Linked DNA regions of Homo sapiens: region 2 is linked to region 1. Evidence: fine-mapped expression QTL. A gene starts in region 1. The other region holds a variant in brackets. All regions are shown on one strand. Distances are from middle to middle.

The links.
Region 2: its variant is fine-mapped to the expression of SYNE3-AS1 in prefrontal cortex (BrainSeq, PIP 0.95).

The regions. Positions count from the first base shown.
Region 1 is chr14:95,511,062-95,520,347 of GRCh38, reverse strand. It overlaps SYNE3-AS1 (SYNE3 antisense RNA 1), which reads right to left and starts at 4,228. Exons shown (of 2, transcript NR_188030.1): 1 at 4,128-4,228; 2 at 2,437-3,344. SYNE3 (spectrin repeat containing nuclear envelope family member 3) reads left to right here and starts at 3,698. Exons shown (of 18, transcript NM_152592.6): 1 at 3,698-3,752. RefSeq lists an enhancer at 1,869-2,018 and silencers at 3,443-4,252, 4,002-4,296.
Region 2 is chr14:95,396,999-95,406,284 of GRCh38, reverse strand. LOC105370640 (a long non-coding RNA gene) reads left to right here and starts at 1,179. Exons shown (of 3, transcript XR_944174.3): 1 at 1,179-1,343; 2 at 7,453-7,687. The variant A/CA (reference allele first, on the strand shown) is at 5,638.

The sequences.
Region 1 (9,286 bases):
TCATCCGTATTAAGCTGAAAGCACTTATGTACTTCACCACTAAGTGGGAAGCCAGGCTAGAGATGGAGAGATGGGAATGTAAATGTTCTGAACAGCAATTCCTATCCTGGAACCCTGGGCAATGCCCCTCGTCCCTACTCTCTTGCCTCAGTTTACCCATGAGGTGTTTTATTAGCCAGAAAAGCCATTGCAGCTTTTGTTGTAATCTATCTGTGGAGACTGAACACACACACACAAACAACTGAAAAAATCATGCTTACAAAATGAGGATTGTGCAGATTGCCACTGAAGCTGGCTAACCAACAGCAAATGTGAAACAGACCCAGATAATTTCCCCAGGCTTATTAAATTGATTCCTGCTTCCCCATGAGTGGTGGTGGAGATGCTGGCTGCAGGGAAGGGACAGAGGGAAAGAGTGGTAAAAACTTCGCTTTTTGGAGGACATTTGGTACGTTGCACAAACAGCCCGCGCTGCCAAGTGAGTCAGAACTTCCGAACAGCATAATTTTAGTGCCCTTCTTGTGGTTCCCTCTCTGGGCTGCTTCTGAAAGGAAGGTCTCAGGGCGGGGTTTCCTGTGTTCAATTCCAGAGATGACAAAGGGGCTCTTCCCCCAATCCTTTGCCAGATTTTTTTTTCCAGATGGGTTTTCATGTCCACCCCCTTATGTAGCTGCAGGTAATGCTGAAGACGAAGGTATTGTGGACTTCCTAGTTGTAAACTGCCCCATCCCTTCGCATTGCTTACTCAACTTTTGTTTTCCTTCCATGTGGACTACTTTGGAGAGAAAAAGATTGGCATCAAATAAAAAATAGGGTTCTGTTTTTGATGTGATGTTTATGTCAGGCTTAAGAAAAGTAATGGATGGCCGGGCATGGTGGCTCACACCTGTAATTCCAGCACTTTGGGAGGCCAAGCAGGCAGATATCTTGAGGTCAGGAGTTCGAGACCAGCCTGGCCAACATGGTGAAATGCTGTCGCTACTAAAAATACAAAAAATTAGCTGGGTGTGGTGGTGTGTGCCTGTAGACCCAGCTATTCAAGTGGCCGAGGCACAAGAGTTGCTTGAATCTGAGAGGAGGTTGCAGTGAGTCAAGATTGCACCACTGCACTCCAACCTGGGTGACAGAGCGAGACTCTAAGAAAAGCAATGGAATGGGAGAGTATTCTGAAAAGCAGCAAGCCCTGTAAAGCCCAAGATAATAACAATCACATTGATAATAACAAAACTATCTGCACAGTATTTTGTACTTTATAAAATATGTTTATCACATGTGTTTTCACCTATGAAAAATTATTGCTATCCCCATCTAACAGATGAGAAAAACCAATGTTGTAAGAGGTCACATTCAGTGTAAGATTAGACTGTATGTGCACACTGTATGTGTAACAGAATCTTACAGTGTAAGATTCACTCAGCTAAATAAGTAGCAAAGCTGGGCCTGGAAAGTGAATATCTCCACTGCTCTGAACTGGTGCTCTGCACTGCACCGGCAGCAGGAGGGACAGTTCATCTCTGTGCACCATGGTCCCCTGACACAGAATTATTACACCCTGACCTCCTTGGAGGTAGTAGTCTATGCCTCATTCTTCTTCATATTCCCAGAGACTAGCACATAGTAGATACTCAGGAATGTTTGACGAAAGACTGAATAGCTGTATGGCAGAAACTGTAGCAATCATACCATTCCCAGAACCATAACATAACAGCTCGCCTGAGTTGGGTGCTCAAATACCAGGCACAAAACCATACAAGATAAGCTCCTATTATTAGATCTATTCAACAGAAAAGGAAACCAAGTATGAGTAATCAGCTGAAAGTTGCAAATTGGGCACTTTGGCACTAGAGCCTGAGCTCCTAACTGTACCCAACCATCTCTTCCTGCAGGACATTGAGTTACAGTGGCCAGCTCCACCCTTGGAGCAGCCTGGGGGAGCCATCTCTCTCCTTGTGCAAGTCACCTGCCCTCTTTGTGTCTTGGTTTCCCTTGTCAGGCAAAACTCATTAAACTTTTCCTAACTACCTGGAGGATGTTTGCAGAGATTTAATGAGGAGACACATTTGAAAGCATTCTGAAAAGCAAAAAGCGCGATCCAGATGCAGGCATTATAATCATTGTTACTCGCTGCCTGCACCTGCAGTTTGACTGTGGCAACCTCAAGGCCTTCGGCAGCACTTCTAATTGAGCCACAGTGATAATAACACATATAATAGCATACTTGGAACCAGTCAGTCGCAGGGAGATGGGAGGGGCCCTGTGTATATCTTCAGCAACGCTGTGAATAATTACAGCTTAATAAATGGGATCTAACTAAGAGGTGTGGGTCTACCTCAGAGTGAATCCTGGGTTTTGGCTAATTCTTCTACCTCCCTCTCAATTTGGAAAAGACATACACACACACACACACACACACACACACACACACACACCGTTAACTATCTTGTCCTGCTTTACAATTTAATCTCTTAGGATACTGACTTTTACACGGATCTGTTCTACAAACATCTGCCATCCCTGCTAAGAAACAAAAAAGGAAAACAGCATCCCGGAAGCCCTGGATTTGGGCCAGTTACTAACCCCGCATCTGTAAAATCGCTAGCCGCACCTAAACTGTGATGACTGGAGTTCACATAAAACCTAGTTTTACAACTTGTATCCTTCATTAGTAGCGCTCATCTGATCCAGAGGCGGTGAAGCCAATCATGCAACCATGTAATTACTCGGAAAAAGATAAGGGTTGGGGCCCAGGACTGTTCAAAGCTGGGCTGGATGCACAGGAAGGCCAGTGACTGCTGACCTGGGAGGAGAGCGCCAGGGTGCGAAGGCTTCCAGCCATCAAGCAGTAGGAGTTTGGCAGAAGGCTGTGGAGCAAACGCCGGGCCAAGGCAACTTCATGTGCACAGGCACAGAGGCAGATACAGTTTAGACATTCTGGGACAAGGTTAAAGGGTTGGCGTGGCTGGAGCAGGGGTTGGGAGAGTGGGAGGATGTTTCTGCTGGTGGGGAGGGAGAGGTGAGGCGCATTCTGAGGCCTTGGGTTTGTTGGGGGTTCACATTATGCCTGGGGATTCACATCCCTTGTGACTCCTGGACTGTGGGCCCGGACTGTGGGGGTGGGAGAGGACGGGCAGGGTGCCACTACCCCCCACCCCGCCCTTTCTCCCCGCGCGAGGCTGGCTGATGAGTGTCATTTTCTTCTTGGATTTCGCGCCTACGGGCGGTGTGCCCCTTCCAAGGCCCCCACCTCCGCTCTGTGAGGGCAAGATCTGCCGGTGTCCTAATCCCTTTTCCATGTCTGGGCGCACAGATCCAACTTTCCCGGAGAGGCAGCTCCGCGCCATCCCCTAGGATGAGAAGAGGGTGGGTGGCTGTGTGTGTGTCGGGGAGACAGACAGGGGCCAGGGCTCCGGGCTGCTTTCCAGGCAAGCGTGGACAGGACCCCCCCCTTAACCCCCGCCCCGGGTCCGCGACAGGGAGCGGTGAGGCTTTTCTTCGGCCCTGGTCCCCGGGGCCACGCAGGATGTCCGCCGGGCTGGGGTTGCGCACCCGGGGCCTCCGCTGAGCGCGTGCGGAGAGGGGCGCGGCCTCTCCCGCGGGGCCACCGGGCGGGTCCCGGCGGGGGCGGGGGTACTCGCGGTGTCCGGGCCCGCCCCAGCCCTGCCCCGCCCCGGAGCCGCCCGGGACGCAGGGAGGAGGGAAGGAGGCTCGGCCCCAGCTACCCGCGGCGCCGCGCTCCTCCACGCTCCGGGAGGGTAAGTGGCACGGGGCCGGGAGGCCAGGCCTGGGGCCGGGGGCCGGGGGCCGGGGGCCGGGCGGGTGGGGTCCTCAGCCCCTGGCCCAGCTCTGACACAGCCCCGGGAATCGGGGGCGCCGAAAGTCTGGGGGACCTGGGGAGGCGCGCCCGGCGCGGGGGCGGGGGCCCCGGCGTGACAGCTGCGGGCGGGCGGGTATTTTTAGTTTAAATCCAACCGTTCTGTGCTGGCTGCGAAATTCCCGAGCCTTTCCTTTCAACCCCGGGGAGCTTCGGCCGGCCCACAAGAAAAAGCCCTAAAGCCCCGGGCAGCGCGCCCCAGCGGGCCGGGTGCCTCCTCGGGGCTTCCCTCTGCCTCCCCTAGGGGCGGGCTGACCTGTCACCAAGGCTTGCGCGCGGCGGGGGCCCAATCCGCTCCTGGCGACCGCGAGCGCGCTCAGTAGTGCCTGGGAGAGCAGAGCAGGCGGCGAAGAGGGGAAGTCCAACCCCGAATGCTCAGTTTCGTTCAGACGCCTTTTGGCTATGCAAACTTGGCAAGCAGCTCAACCTCTCTGAGCCTCATTCCCACATTTCTAAAGGGGAGGGCAGTGAGGCCAGAGATGGCTTGCAGGGCCTGAGAGAGCCTCAGATGGATGTTGACTTCCCCTGGGGTCTTGGGATCTTGACCCCAAACAGCAGACCCATTGATGTGGCCCATTGGTCAACCCGGGAGCAGTGTCCTACACCGCCCAGCTGACCTCTGCTTCAAAACTGGAAGCCAGGGGCCTCCAGCCTGGGCGGGGTGATAATGAATATTTTCAGTTAACCACTTTGGCCCTGAAGCTCCAACCCTGGGCTTTCCTGGGACTCTCCCAGGTTCCTGGTCACCCCTTTCAACTCTGAAGGGTCACCCTTATCCCTGCACTGGGTGGGGGGGCTTTCTACAGCCAAGGGCTGCTAGTGGGATAGCTTGATGTGTCTTGGGGGCATGCCCCATCCCACATGAATGAGGGCATGAGGAGAATGGACCGTCCTCCCAGAAAGGAGAGCATGTCATAAAATCACTGCCATTCTGAGCTTGGCAGGACAGCGTCCTTCATCCACCAAGAGAAGCAGAAACAGGCCCAGAGAGGGGGAGTGATTTGCCCAGAGCCACACTGCCTGGCTCTCTTGAAGGGCCTGGGCTTGCCGCCTGCACTTCCAGGGCAGCCAACAGCCCATAGGAGTCAGGAGCTGGGAGGTGGGAGGGGCATATCAGTGCCAACGAGCTGTTTTGCTCAGTTTCCTGTCACTGTGCCCCAGCGGGATGCTCCAGCACATGTGGGTCTGCACATTCCTCAGGCCGGACGGTGCTCGGCAGGCTGACAGCCACAGCTGTGCCAAGCCTGCTGGCCCCAGGCGTTGTTTTCAACCAGAGAGGCCCCTCTGGGGGTGGCTGAGCGGGAAGTGGGCTGGGATGTCTTATTTCTGGAACTCGTGTCTTGCTGGGGGTCCTGAGAAGAAGGCCTGAGGATGTGTTGGTGGCACAGAGGGAAGTGGTGAGAATCCAGGCTCAGGTTTCTGCCTCCAGGTACAGTCTGGCACCTGGCTCCCTGCAGGTACACTTCAGAGTGAGTTGGAGTCCTTTCTGTCTGTCTCCATGGGAACAAGGCTCCTGCTCGGGTGCTTTGCATGCTCTCCAGCAGCCATGGACCTGGCCATGCCTGGGCAGCCCCTTTGCCTTGTGATGCAGCCTGGAGCGGGCTGCCGGGGGGCCCTGGCTTGGCGGCCCCGGGAGGCAAGACTGGGCAGGCCCAGCTCAACGTCAAAAGCACCCTGGAGCCTTTGGGAACCCACTGGGCAGCTAGGCTTCCCGCATTGTCCAGCTGTTAGGAATGGGGCAGTCAAGTTGGATTGCCTGAGTCCAGTCCTGCCTTAGCCCGTTCCTGGCTGTGTAGCCTTGGGAAAGTTGCTTCACCTTTCAGAGCTTCAGCGTCCTTCCCCGTGGAAAGGGGCTAACCATAGCACGGCAGGTGTTGCCTCGCAGGGCCTCATGAGCACTAAACGAGCTTTGCCCTGATCAGCATTTTGTATGGTGTCAGACACAGCACATGTGAGAAGGTGTCACAGTTTGAGGCGAAGGGGCCTCGTCGGGATACCTGGGTTCCCCTCTGCTCTGCCTCTGCCCCTCTTCTCCCTGCCTTGATTTCCCCTTGTCTGTCAATGGTGGGTAGTCCTGGCTCACCCCCCTCATGGTCCTCCCAGCACTGAAAGCTGGCCCTTGGCCCCAGGGAGGGCAGGAGGCTCTTGACCCCAAACAGCTGACCCATTGATGTGGCCCATTGGTCAACCCAGGAGCAGTGTCCTACACCGCCTAGCTGACCTCTGCTTCAAAACTGGAAGCCAGGGGACTCCAGCCTGGGCGGGGTGATAATGAATATTTTCAGTTAACCACTTTGGCCCTGAAGCTCCAACCCTGGGCTGCCCTGGGACTCTTTCCCAGGTTCCTGGTCACCCCTTTCAACTCTGAAGGGTTCTAGAGAAGCCTACAGAGGGACTCAAATGTGTTCGTGGGGTCTTCCAAAGCTCTTCCTGCCTCTCACCTCCTAGGATCTGGTAGTAGGCAAGGCTGTCATTGCTTGCCCATTTACAGATGAGAAGGCTGATATCCAGCGGCTGGATGTGGTACAGCCAGGATTAGAACTAAGGGCTTTTGACCTGATGCTCTTCCTGGCACCACATGGCCTATCTTAGACAATCCAAGGACAAAGTTGTACGTTCATCACTGGGAAAACAGTACTGACCGGACAGGATGCTTGTCTTCATTAAGTCATCAGTACTTGCTGGAAAAGAATATGGATTCTGAATATATATATATATATATATATATATATATATATAATCTAAGCAGCCTGACTGGACCACAAAGATAGGAACCCAGGAGCAGCAGTGTTTCCTGACCCTCCCATCCTGAAAGGAACCTTTGCTTTAGGACTTAGGGATGATGTTCTGGGGCTGAGCAGCTAGGAAGCTAGGAAGTGGACGGGGGACAAGTTTGGGAAGCTGATGCCCTAATTTTGACCTCTTGAAATACTTCCCTTTTGGGGTTGCTGCGAAGATAATTGAGGTAACTGGGGATGATGCTTTAGCAGAATGCCCGGCATGGTGCGGGCACACCATAAATAGGACTGATGGTTTTTATTATTACTAACCCTCTACTATCATTGTAACACCAGAGTGCAGCCTGGATCTCTCGCCTGGGTTTCTAGGCTGCAGACGTGGTATAGAGAATCCTAGCATCTCCATGGAGAACTGCTAAGGCAATTATAAAAGCTCAAAACACAACCAAACTAAGCAATGAGTTGTTTAGTGACACATAGCTGAGAAGTAAAATGACGACAAAAAGCAAGAAGGTGATTAGCTTAAATAAAAGCCAAGCATTACCACGCGTGCTGAGGAAAGGTGAGAGAGGATCAGGAGAGTCGGGGGGGCAGTTACAAAGGAGATCACTTTGTAGTTACTGGCTAATTACATGTATGTTTTATACATGCCTTTATACGTAGATTCTATTTCACAAAGTTAAGCTGGTTTAAAAAAGAAAAAGGCAAGGGAATGATAATGCAAAATCAAGGTGATTATCTTTGGGGAGAAGTGGGTAATTGATCAGGGAGATGTCTGTTTCACTCTCAGTGGGATCCATTATGTTCTGTTTCTTCAGTCCAGTGGTAGGCTTGTGAGTGTTATTTTTTATTTATTTTATGTATGTATTTATTTATTTTTTGAGACAGAGTCTTGCTCTGTCACCCAGGCTGGAGTGCAGTGGCCTGATCTCGGATCACTGCAAGCTCCACCTGCCGGGTTTACGCCATTCTCCTGCCTCAGCCTCCCGAGTAGCTGGGACTACAGGCGCCCACCACCACGTCCGGCTAATTTTTTGTATTTTTTTTTTTAGTAGAGACGGGGTTTCATCGTGTTAGCCAGGATGGTCTTGATCTCCTGACCTCGTGATCTGCCCACCTCAGCCTCCCAAAGTGCTAGGATTACAGGCATGAGCCACCGTGCCCAGCCTATTTATTTATTTTTTTGAGACAGAGTCTCACTCTGTTGCCCAGGCTGGAGTGCAGTGGCACAATCTCAGCTCACAGCAACCTCCACCTCCCAGGTTCAAGCCATTGTTCTGCCTCAGCCTCCTGAGTAGCTGGGATTACAGGCATGTGCCACCATGCCTGGCTAAGGGCGTTATTTTTAAATATTTTTATGCTTCATTATTTACAAATAGGAGGCGCATATATTCCATTATATATATATAATCTTACATAATACAAATGAAATTAAAAGATCATGTGGAGCATTTTCAGATGCTTTCTTAGAAAATCTGCCTCTCTCCTCAGATTCCAATGTTAATCTGGCTGGATTTAAAAAATAAAGCAAAAAATTCTGTTGTATGACACATGATTTTATGTGTCATAAATCTTTATGTAGGAGACACGATCTTTAATGTAGGAGACATGATCTCTGTCTTCCCAAATCATACAACAAGTAAGATAATAATAACACTCTATGACCTCAGATGATCAACAGGATTTTTAAAGGTCCTGGCCTAATGATTTATGCTTCTGAATCATAAAATCCTGAAATATTTGAGCTGGAAGGAACCTCAGGTCACCTGGACCAATCTACTGGTTTTATAACAAAACGAAGTGTCCTGGCCGAGGTCACACACGTAGGGAATACACTTCTCTCCAGGCTGCCACAGCTGTGTGACTCTCATGCAGACACCACCCGACAGACAGACCAGTGAGAGTCTTGGGTCACAAGGCTCCTCCTTAGGGCACTCAGGGAGAGAGACGGGAAGTATACCTGAGATTAAACTGATAGGATCATTTTATTTATTTTATTTAATTTATTTATTTATTTATTTTTTGAGAAGGAGTCTTGCTCTGTCTCCCAGGCTGGAGTGCAGTGGTGTGATCTCAGCTCACCGTAACCTCTGCCTCCCGGGTTCAAGCAGTTCTCCTGCCCCAGCCTCCTGAGTAGCTGGGACTACAGTTGCATGCCACCATGCCCAGCTAATTTTATTATTATTATTTTTTTGTATTTTTAGTAGAGACAGGGTTTCACCTTGTTGGCCAGGATGGTCTCAATCTCCTGACCTCGTGATCCACCCACCTCGGTCTCCCAAAATGCTGGGATTACAGGCGTGAGTCACCGCGCCTGGCCCAGGATCATTTTATTTTTAAAAAGTCAGAAGAGAGTTACATTTTACGATGGAACCACACATTTCTAGAACTTACATGAACAGAAACATCCTCAAAGAAAACACAGAAGCAGTGCTTAGAATCTTCTTTCCTACAGGAAGTCCTCTTAGGAAAGAGCTCCTCTCACTCATCCTATTTTTTGCAGGCGTACTTGATTCCCAAAACAATTGAGTGCTGCAGTTATGGTTATTTCCATTTTCCAGTGGGGGAAGCAGGTTCAGAGAGGTTCAGTGCCTTGACCCAAATCACGCAGCAGGTGAAGATGGAGCAGGACTTTCATCCAGAGCGGGAGTGGAAAGGATGAGCCACTTTTGTTTTC
Region 2 (9,286 bases), 110 kb after region 1:
CAAGTGGAGTCCAGAGCCGTGCATGAGACTTTGAACTGTTGGTGCAAAAGTTGTTACAGGCTGGAAGCGGTGGCTCATGCTTGTAATCCCAGCACTTTGGGAGGTTGAGGTGGGCAAATCATTTGAGGTCAAGAGTTCAAGACTAGCCTGACCAATATGGTGAAACCCTGCCTCTACTAAAAATGCAAAAAAAAAAAAAAATAGTCAGGTGTGGCAGTGCACACCTGTCGTCCCAGCTACTTGAGAAGCTGAGGCAGGAGAATCGCTTGAACCTGGGAGGTGGAGGTTGCAGTGAGCCAAGATCACGCCACTGCACTCCAGCCTGGGCGACAGAGTGAGACTCCATTTCAAAAATAATAATAATAATTATGGTTTTTGCCATCAAAAGTAATAGATTTGGATCTGGTTCAGTGGTGCATGCCCTAGAGTTAAATGTCATTCAAATGAGTCTCTGAGTTTTTGACTTGGTGAAGCAGTTCTGCAGAGAAAGGGCAAAGGGTGGGAAAGTCTGTTCTTTTAGGAAGGAGGAGCGGTCCTTGGTTTTTCCATCTGCCTTGTTTAGGGCAGATGAAGCCAGGTTGCCAGCACTCCTATAGAGGACCCTGCAAATGGAAGAATCACTTTCCACTATCAGGCCGCAGCAAGACCACTGCTGGCTACAAGGAGTTTACAACTGAGGGAGGTGATTTCACCCAGCATATCGGGATCCATTGTCTAAAGTCTTAGAGTGGTGCTAAGTACCCTCACAGAAACACTTGTGAGTCTTGTGGCCCCGAATAACAAGAACCCTTACCTTCTAAGTAGTTGTCCAAAAAATAAAGCAGCATGCTTTTTGAAGAAAGACAGAACTCTGTCCACGGGGATGCTCTGCCTTTTAGGTCTATATGGAATTGATCACGGCATAGCCCTGTTTAGCTGATCTGAAGAAGCCTTAATCCGTATAACATAAAGGTATGCCACGTGTCATTTATGTTAACTAAACGTGGTATACATGTTTATTTCCACAGCAGAAGCATCAAACCTGGGGTCAGGAACTTCAGGGTTAAAACGCTGTTTCAGTGAGAAAACTAGATTTACCCTTCCTTGTTTTAATTTAGCACCTTTTGTGGGAACCCAGCCCACTGTGAGAGTAGCATTAAACACACACGGTTTCTAAATCTTTACTGAGTTCTCTAGTGTTTCTGGCTGGACGACTCATTCATTTTTATGACCGTGTGATTTTTTTCACAACCAGGCGTCCCATGGAAATAATTATCTTACCTCAGTTTTCATCCACGGCTTCCAAGCCCAACCATGACATGGTTAATTGGAGAGATCCATCACCTTCTCGTGGAATCCTCTTGGTGAGAATGTTACTCAGCTACTTGGCCCTGCCAGCCTCCTCTGTCACTGCCTCTGCAGCCCTGGCTCTCCGTCCTGCTACCTTTCATTATGCTGCAAAAGGAGAGACCCCAACTTGCTCAGGGCTTCCGGGCTGGAATTCCGTATTGCAGTTGCATACTGGCGTGCATCCTGGTCCCTGCTCCCCGCTCCAGCTTGGTTTTCACTGTGGCCTGCTGCTGCTAATTTCTAATAGGAGGGCTCCTCTACCAATGGACAGCGAGGGAAATTGCTCTAAATTGTTCTGAGACATGGCCTGTCTCATGCTATCTGTTTCCTCTCTTTGGGCTTGTGCAAATCACTGAGGCCCTTTTCCTTTGGAATGAGGTGATGGGATAACAAAAAGTAAAAAGCAACAAACCACAATGCTGAATGCAATGTGGAATCCTGCATTGCATCCTGGAACAGTGAACAGGCATTAGTGGAAAGGCCAATGATACACAGATCAAGTTAGCAGTTTCATTAACGCTATTGCACTGGTGTTAATTTCTTGGTGTTGACAAATTCCCCATGGACATGTAAGATGTTACCGTTAGAGGAGACTGGGTGTGTTTGTCTATTTTTGTGTAGCTATAAAGAAATACCTGGAGCTGGATATTTATAAAGAAAGGAGGTTTAATTGGTTCACAGTTCTGCAGGCTGAACGGGAAACATGGTGCTGGCATCCACTTCTGGTGAGGTTCTAAGGAAGCCTACAATCATGGCAGAAGGTGACAGGGAGCCAGCATGTCATATGGCCAGAGTAGGATCAAGAGAGAGAGGGAGAAAAGTACCACACTCTGTTAAACAACCCGATCTCTGTGAGCAAGCATTCACTTATCACCAGGGGGATGATGGCGCTAAGCCACTCATGAGCAATCTCCCCCGTGATCCAATACCTCCCACCAGGCCCCACCTCCAGCACTGGGGATTCCATGAAATCTGGAAGGACAAACATCCAGAGTGTATCACTGGGTGAAGGTTATGGGAACTTTGTGCTGTTTTTGCACCTTTTCTAAATGATTCCAAATAAAAATTTTATTTATTTTTTTTTGAGACGGAGTCTCACTCTGTCGCCCAGGCTGGAGTGCAATGGCGCCATCTCAGCTCACTGCAAGCTCCACCTCCCGGGTTCACTCCGTTCTCCTGCCTCAGCCTCCTGAGTAGCTGGGACTACAGGCGCCCGCCACCACACCCAGCTAATTTTTTGTATTTTTAGTAGAGACGGGGTTTTACCATGTTAGCCAGGATGGTCTCGATCTCCTGACCTCGTGATCCACCCGCCTTGGCCTCCCAAAGTGCTGGGATTACAGGCGTAAGCCACTGCGCCTGGCCAAAAATTTTATTTATTGTTTGTTCCATTTTATTTCATTTCTATTTTCATTAGAATGAAATGAATAGAATCTTATCAATAATCTGTTTTGCCAATCTAGTAAATGAAAAGATCTGAATTTTTAAAAGCATTGAACATTTCAAAAACTGATTTTGCAGTTTTTAATGATATCTTTATAATCAAGAAATAGTAAAAAGTTACATGCTAAATAATGGCATGTTCCAAAACAGATTAGTCTTCCCTTCCAAGTGGCAAATTCAGCAGTATTTAGGACAAGCACTGTATGATTTGAACACTAGAAAAATGTCTATTTCCTTCTTTTTTCATCAGCTTACATATTTTCTTTCTTTCCACACTTAAAATTCTTTTCTTTTAATGGACAAATAGTAATGTTATATATTCATGGGGTACACAGTGATGTTTTGATACATATAATGTAAGTGATCAGATCAGGGTAATTAGCATATCCAGCATCTCAAACATTTATCATTTCTTTGTTTTGGGAACATTCAGCATCCTTCTTCTAGCTATTTGAAACTATATACTGTTGTTAACTATAGTCAGCCTACAGTGGTGTAATATTCTAGAACTTATTTATCCTATCTAGCTGTAATTTGTATCATTTAACAAGTCTCTCCCTATGCTTCCTTCCTCCTACTCTCCCTAGCTTCTAGTATCCCATTTTACTTTTTACTTCTATGAGATCAACTTTTTTTAGCTATCACATATGAGTGAGAACATGTGGTGTTTAACTTTCTGTTCCTGGCTTATTTTGCTTAACATAATGTCCTCTAGTTCTATCCGTGTTGCCACGAATGACGAGATTTCTCTTTTTTTAATGGCTGAATGGTATTCCATTGTGTATATATCCCATATTTTTTACATCCATCTGTTGTTGGACACCTACGTTGATCCCATATCGTGGCTATTGTGAACAGTGCTGCAATAAACATGAAGGTGCAGATGTCTCTTCAATATAATGATTTCCTTTCCTTTGGATAAATTCCCAGTAGTAAGATCACTAAAAATTTTATTTTTAAAAATATGATTTTTTATGGCCCTGGAAAAAAAATGTGAAGTTTCTCTTTTGCTCTTAACTTACTCCCTTAAAAGTGACGGTGAAACTGTTCTAGGAACAGGCTTGGAATCATCCTGATCAGTGTTTGGCTCCAAGCAACCAAATCTGCAAGGCATTGGACCTTAACAAAGTTCTCCCATCTTCTGGAATACTTATCTCAAAGGAATGTGGTTGGGCGGATTAAATGGGATAGTATGTGTAAAGGGCTTTCACAGTGCTCAGCCCATAGGACACACTCCATAACTGGAAGCTATTTATACCACCCCATCCCAAATGCCTTCCTGGGTCATGCTAGGCAGGTTCTGAAGAAGTATCTTCTTTTACATTCTCTAGGATGCATACTCTGACCCCAAAGTACTGCCCTGCAACTACTGCCAGGAGTCCGGGATCTCCCTTATGGGCTTACAAGTGTCCTGAAGATGCTTGTTAAGGGGAGAGTCTAGAATCAGTCAGCAGTCAGTTGCAAAAAACAGAATCCACTCTAACTAGCTTAAGGAGAAAGGGATTTATGATGGGGTATAAAATGGCTCACAAAATTGTTGAAGAACAGACTCTAATCTGAGATTTCAGGAGGAGCTCAGCCTCAGGACCATGCTGCCTCTTTCATGGTGGAGAAAGTTGCTGCTGCTGCCCCGCAGGAGGCTGCCAGACAGGGAGAATACTGCAGCTGCGGACTAAAGGCCTCGCCTCCGTTGCACTGCAGCAAAGGGGTGCCCATGTCAAGCTGTCTCCTCATGCACCTCCCTCCCACACTCAGCATCATGAAGGAGAGTTGGAATTGGAAAAACCTGGTTCACATTTAGAACACAGCAGCAAAGGAGGCAGGGATATGCCATGTTATTTATTTTTTTAAAAAAATGATTTTTTTTTTAGAGACAGTCTCCCTATGTTGCCCAGGCTGATCTCGAACTCCTATCTCGGCCTCCCAAAGTGCTAGGATTCCAGATGTGAGCCACCACACTCGGCCAATGCCATTTTAGCTTTACCCTTCTGCATTATGGGAAAACATCTTGCAAGGAGTTTAATGGGCAATTAATAAGCAAATCTACAGTATCCCCCACGGCCCATGCCTCTGGATACTTCATGTCCCGGTGTACCCCAATTTCCATATTTAAACTTCCAAGCAAAAACAGCAGTGGAAACAATAGCTCCCATATTCCACCTAATGCACCTACCCCCGTATGAGCAAGTGAGTGCTTAGCAAAACGTCCCATTTATCAATATATCCATTTCTGTGCTCTGTTAGTTTTCCTCTGGTTCATTCACAATTTTACTTGATGTCCTGAAGTCTGTGAACTAAATTATGAGGTTAGCTGTCGCATCCCTGCCACCAGGCCTGCTTGTTCATGGGCAACTGAACTGACATCCAGTGATGTCTGGACACCTGATTATCAAGAGCCTTCTCTCCACAGATGGACTTTTGATGATCATTCAAACAGTACATACATATCGTTATACCCAAGATCTCGCTGAAAGGGCTACCCATATATATTTTCCTCAAACTTCCATGTTATCAATCCCCATTCTTGTCCTTTTCGAGCCCTTGACCATCCTTAAGGAAAGAATCAAGTAAAGAATATTTAAATAAAAAATATCACTGAGCTCTTTTTTTTTTTTTAATTTTTTTTGAGATGGAGTCTCACTCTGTTGCCCAGGCTGGAGTGCAGTGGCGCGATCTCGGCTCACTGCAACCTCCACCTCCCAGGTTAAAGCGCTTCTTCTGCTTCAGCCTCCCGAGTAGCTGGGAACTACAGGCGGGTGCCACCACACCCAACTAATTTTTGTATTTTTAGTAGAGACACGGTTTCACCATATTGGCCAGGCTGGTCTCGAACTCCTGACCTTGTGATCCACCCCCCACCCCCCC[A/CA]CACCCGGCCTCCCAAAGTGTTGGGATTACAGGTGTGAGCCACCTCACCTGGACTATTAAGCTCTTATTATACATCAAGAATAAATAAAATGGTGAACAAAACAGAAACCCCCAAACCCTGCCTTCCTGGAGCTTACTCTCTGGTGCTGGGTACTGCCCATTCTTCTGTGTAGATCTGTACTCTCAGTCATTTCTCCTTCTAGGCAAAATGAACTACTAAATACACATTTCAAAGACAGTGGGGGACGTTCCTTCCCCATTGTCTTTCATCAGCAGCCTTCACGGGGGCTGTAATCCTATAGCATTATACATCTGACTAGTTGCATTATATCAGGCAAGGTCAACTAGGCTCAAATACTTTTTTTTTTTTTTTTTGGAGACAGAGTCTCACTCTGTCACCCAGGCTGGAGTGCAGTGGTGCGATCTCAGCTCACTGCAACCTCCGCCTCCCAAGTTCAAGCGATTCTCCTGCCTCAGCCTCCAAAGTAGCTGGGACTACGGGCACCTGCCACCACGCCCGGCTAATATTTTGAATTTTTAGTAGAGATGGGGTTTCGCCACGTTGGCCAGGCTGGTCTTGAACTCCTGACCTCAAGTGATCCGCCTGCTTGGCCTCCCAAAGTGCTGGGGTTACAGGTGTGAGTCACCATGCCTGGGCTCAAATTCTTTATTCTGATGCCAAGTGAAGCTGTGAATGCCAAGTGGATGCCAAGTGAAGCTGTGGGGTGGGCTGAGGGTTAGGGGTTTTGCAGCAGAAGTAGTCATCCTGGGGGCTGTGGACCATTGGTAAGGCCTGCATGTTTATTTCCCCCAACTCCCAATTCATACGTTGAAATGCTAACCCGCAAGGTGATGGTATTAGGAGGTGAGGCCTCTGGAGGGTGATTAGGTCATGATGGTGGAGCTGTCATGCATGGGATTATTAAAATGACCCCAGAGGGAGAGCTTGCCCCTTCAACCATGTGAGGACACAGCAAGAAGGCACCATCTATGAACCAGGAAACGTGCCCTCACCAGACACCGAAACTGCTTGTGCCTTGATCTTTGACTTCCCAGCCTCCAGAACATGAGAAATAAATTTCTGTTGTCTATCAGCCACCTAGGCTATGATATTTTGTTATAACAGCCCAAATGGACTAAAACACCCACATACACATGCAGCTCACAAAATGACCAAATAAGACACTGGGCAAAGATTTCAGGCCTGGGCATTCATTCAGCAAGTGGACCATGGCACTGAGGACAGGCAGTGTGAGGTTACCACCCATGAGAAAACTGGACAAGCATCTGCCGAGGTCCCTCCAGCCTACAGGGCTCCTGCTCCCCTGAGCACTGCTCCTGCTATGGAGTTCTTCTCCGTTGCCTCATTTTGGACCATCCTGGAAAATGGACCCTCTCTCTGACCACAGTCTGTGATTGAGCGCCATACACCTGGGATTCCAACCCCCAATCTCTGCAGGCCAGTTTGTGACCTCAGCTCCGCACTTCTCACACAACACCGCCATGGCTCTTTGTTTGCTGCCTGTTCTGTGCTCTCGGCTGCTGGCACTGACCTTCTTGTGTTTGCTCCTGTTTGGGGTTTCGTAAGTTCAGATTTGTCTACTTGTTTGTTTTGATTCTCAGCGCCTCGGACAGGAGTAGACCTGTGGGTCAAATCTAGCTGCCACTAGTTTTCACACAGTTCAAGGAGTAAGAATGGTTTTTAAATTTTTAAGTGGGTTACATTTTACATGGTTATGTAAGTACCAACAAAATAGCTTTAATTTTGCCTCTTGCGCTACAAAGTCCTAAAATATTTACTCTGGTCCTTCACAGAAGCGTTTGTCAACTCATGCTCAAGGACATCGCTCGTGCAGTTTCCCACCTGATTAATCCATGTAGCCAAGCTGTCCATCCCCAAATCCCAGCAAGGTCCTTCCCTATGACCAGCTCCCCAGCAGGCTGGCTGTGACCTCCCTGAAGGGGTCCAGGGAGAAAGCACACTGGCCGGGGAGGCAGGAGAAATCGGTTCCAGCCTCGCACTCATCACCAACTTGCTTTGTGACTTTTGGTAAGTCCCATTCCCTCTCTGTACCTCAGATCCCTCTCTGTCAAACGGGGAGTTTCGATGTGAATCACCTTGGAAATCTCTCACAGCACTGCCAGTCCTCGCCAAACCATTGTTCTCCATAACCATGAGGAACATGGGAGAGAACAAGGCATGGGACTGTCCCAGGGACCCCAGGATCGAGCCCACGATCAATTCTTCATCCTAGGGCATGGGTGACAGGTCACGCGGGCACACAGACACACATGCTATACACTGTAGACACGTGCACGCACCTGAGTGCCTATGCACACACACCCCTTATTCATGCACCACACACACAGAGGCACACATAGACACAGACACACTCCACACACACACACCTACACATACACCACATAACTGTGTGCAAGTACACGCACCACACACAACCATGCACCACACACAGAGGCACACACGGACACGGACACACTCCATACACACACACACACACACGTACACATACACTACACACCTGTGTGCAAGTACATGCACCACAAACAACCATGCACCACACACAACCATGCACCACACAGAGGCACATATAGACCTAGACACACTCCATACATACACACACTTGCACACATACAATCACACACACCATGCATACACACACATGCCACACAGACAAAACACACACCACACACAGATATATGCACACATGCCAAACACACCCACCACACCACATACAGGCATACACACATGGATGCACCACATACAGACACACACATACACATCATAGACACATGCACATGCTTGCACATACCCCCCACCTGCATACATGTGTGTACACACCCCCCCACACACCAAACACACACAGATGCACACATACACTACACATACAGATACACTACATACCACACACAGACACCACAGAGGCACATATGGATACAGATAGAGACAGTCAACATACACAATTGCCAGACATGCAAGCCATATACACAGGTGCGCACCCACACCACACACACAGAGACCTACATAGACACAGGCACATGGTGCTCTGGGCAAAGTGTTGTGACCGTGTCTCACGGCTTGTCAGGTTGGGAGCCGTAGCAGAGCTCTGGGGGTACATCCCTGGGGGATCCCTCCTCGACTCTGGTCTGATTAAGTCAGCTCTGCAGAAACCAGAAAATTAAATTTGGGGCCATGTCTGTCTTCCGGATATGGTGCATAATTTCAGGATTACTCTGGGTAAAGAAAAGAGAAAGGGCTCTTTTCTTTTTTTAGGGTTTGGAAAGGAAAACATGGTTGTGTGGGCTAACGTGTATTGCTGGGCGAGGTCTTCAGGGGTATGGTTCGGAGCCATGAGGGAGGCGTCTGTGCAAGCAGCAAGCCTTCCTTTTTGGGGCCAGGTAGGGGGTCGGTAATGCAGAGGTTATAAAGAAAGAGATTGCATTTGATTAATGAAATATTTTCTTACAATCATGTTTTTGCTGAAATGCATGTTCAACCCTGACCAAAGGCCAGGGAAGCCAAATGCAAAACATACAGTGTGCGGTTGCCAGAATATCTCCCAAGCTACATTTTAATATATGTCAAAATTCAAATTTACCCTGGAGTCAAGGAAGTCAGAGAGGGAGACCT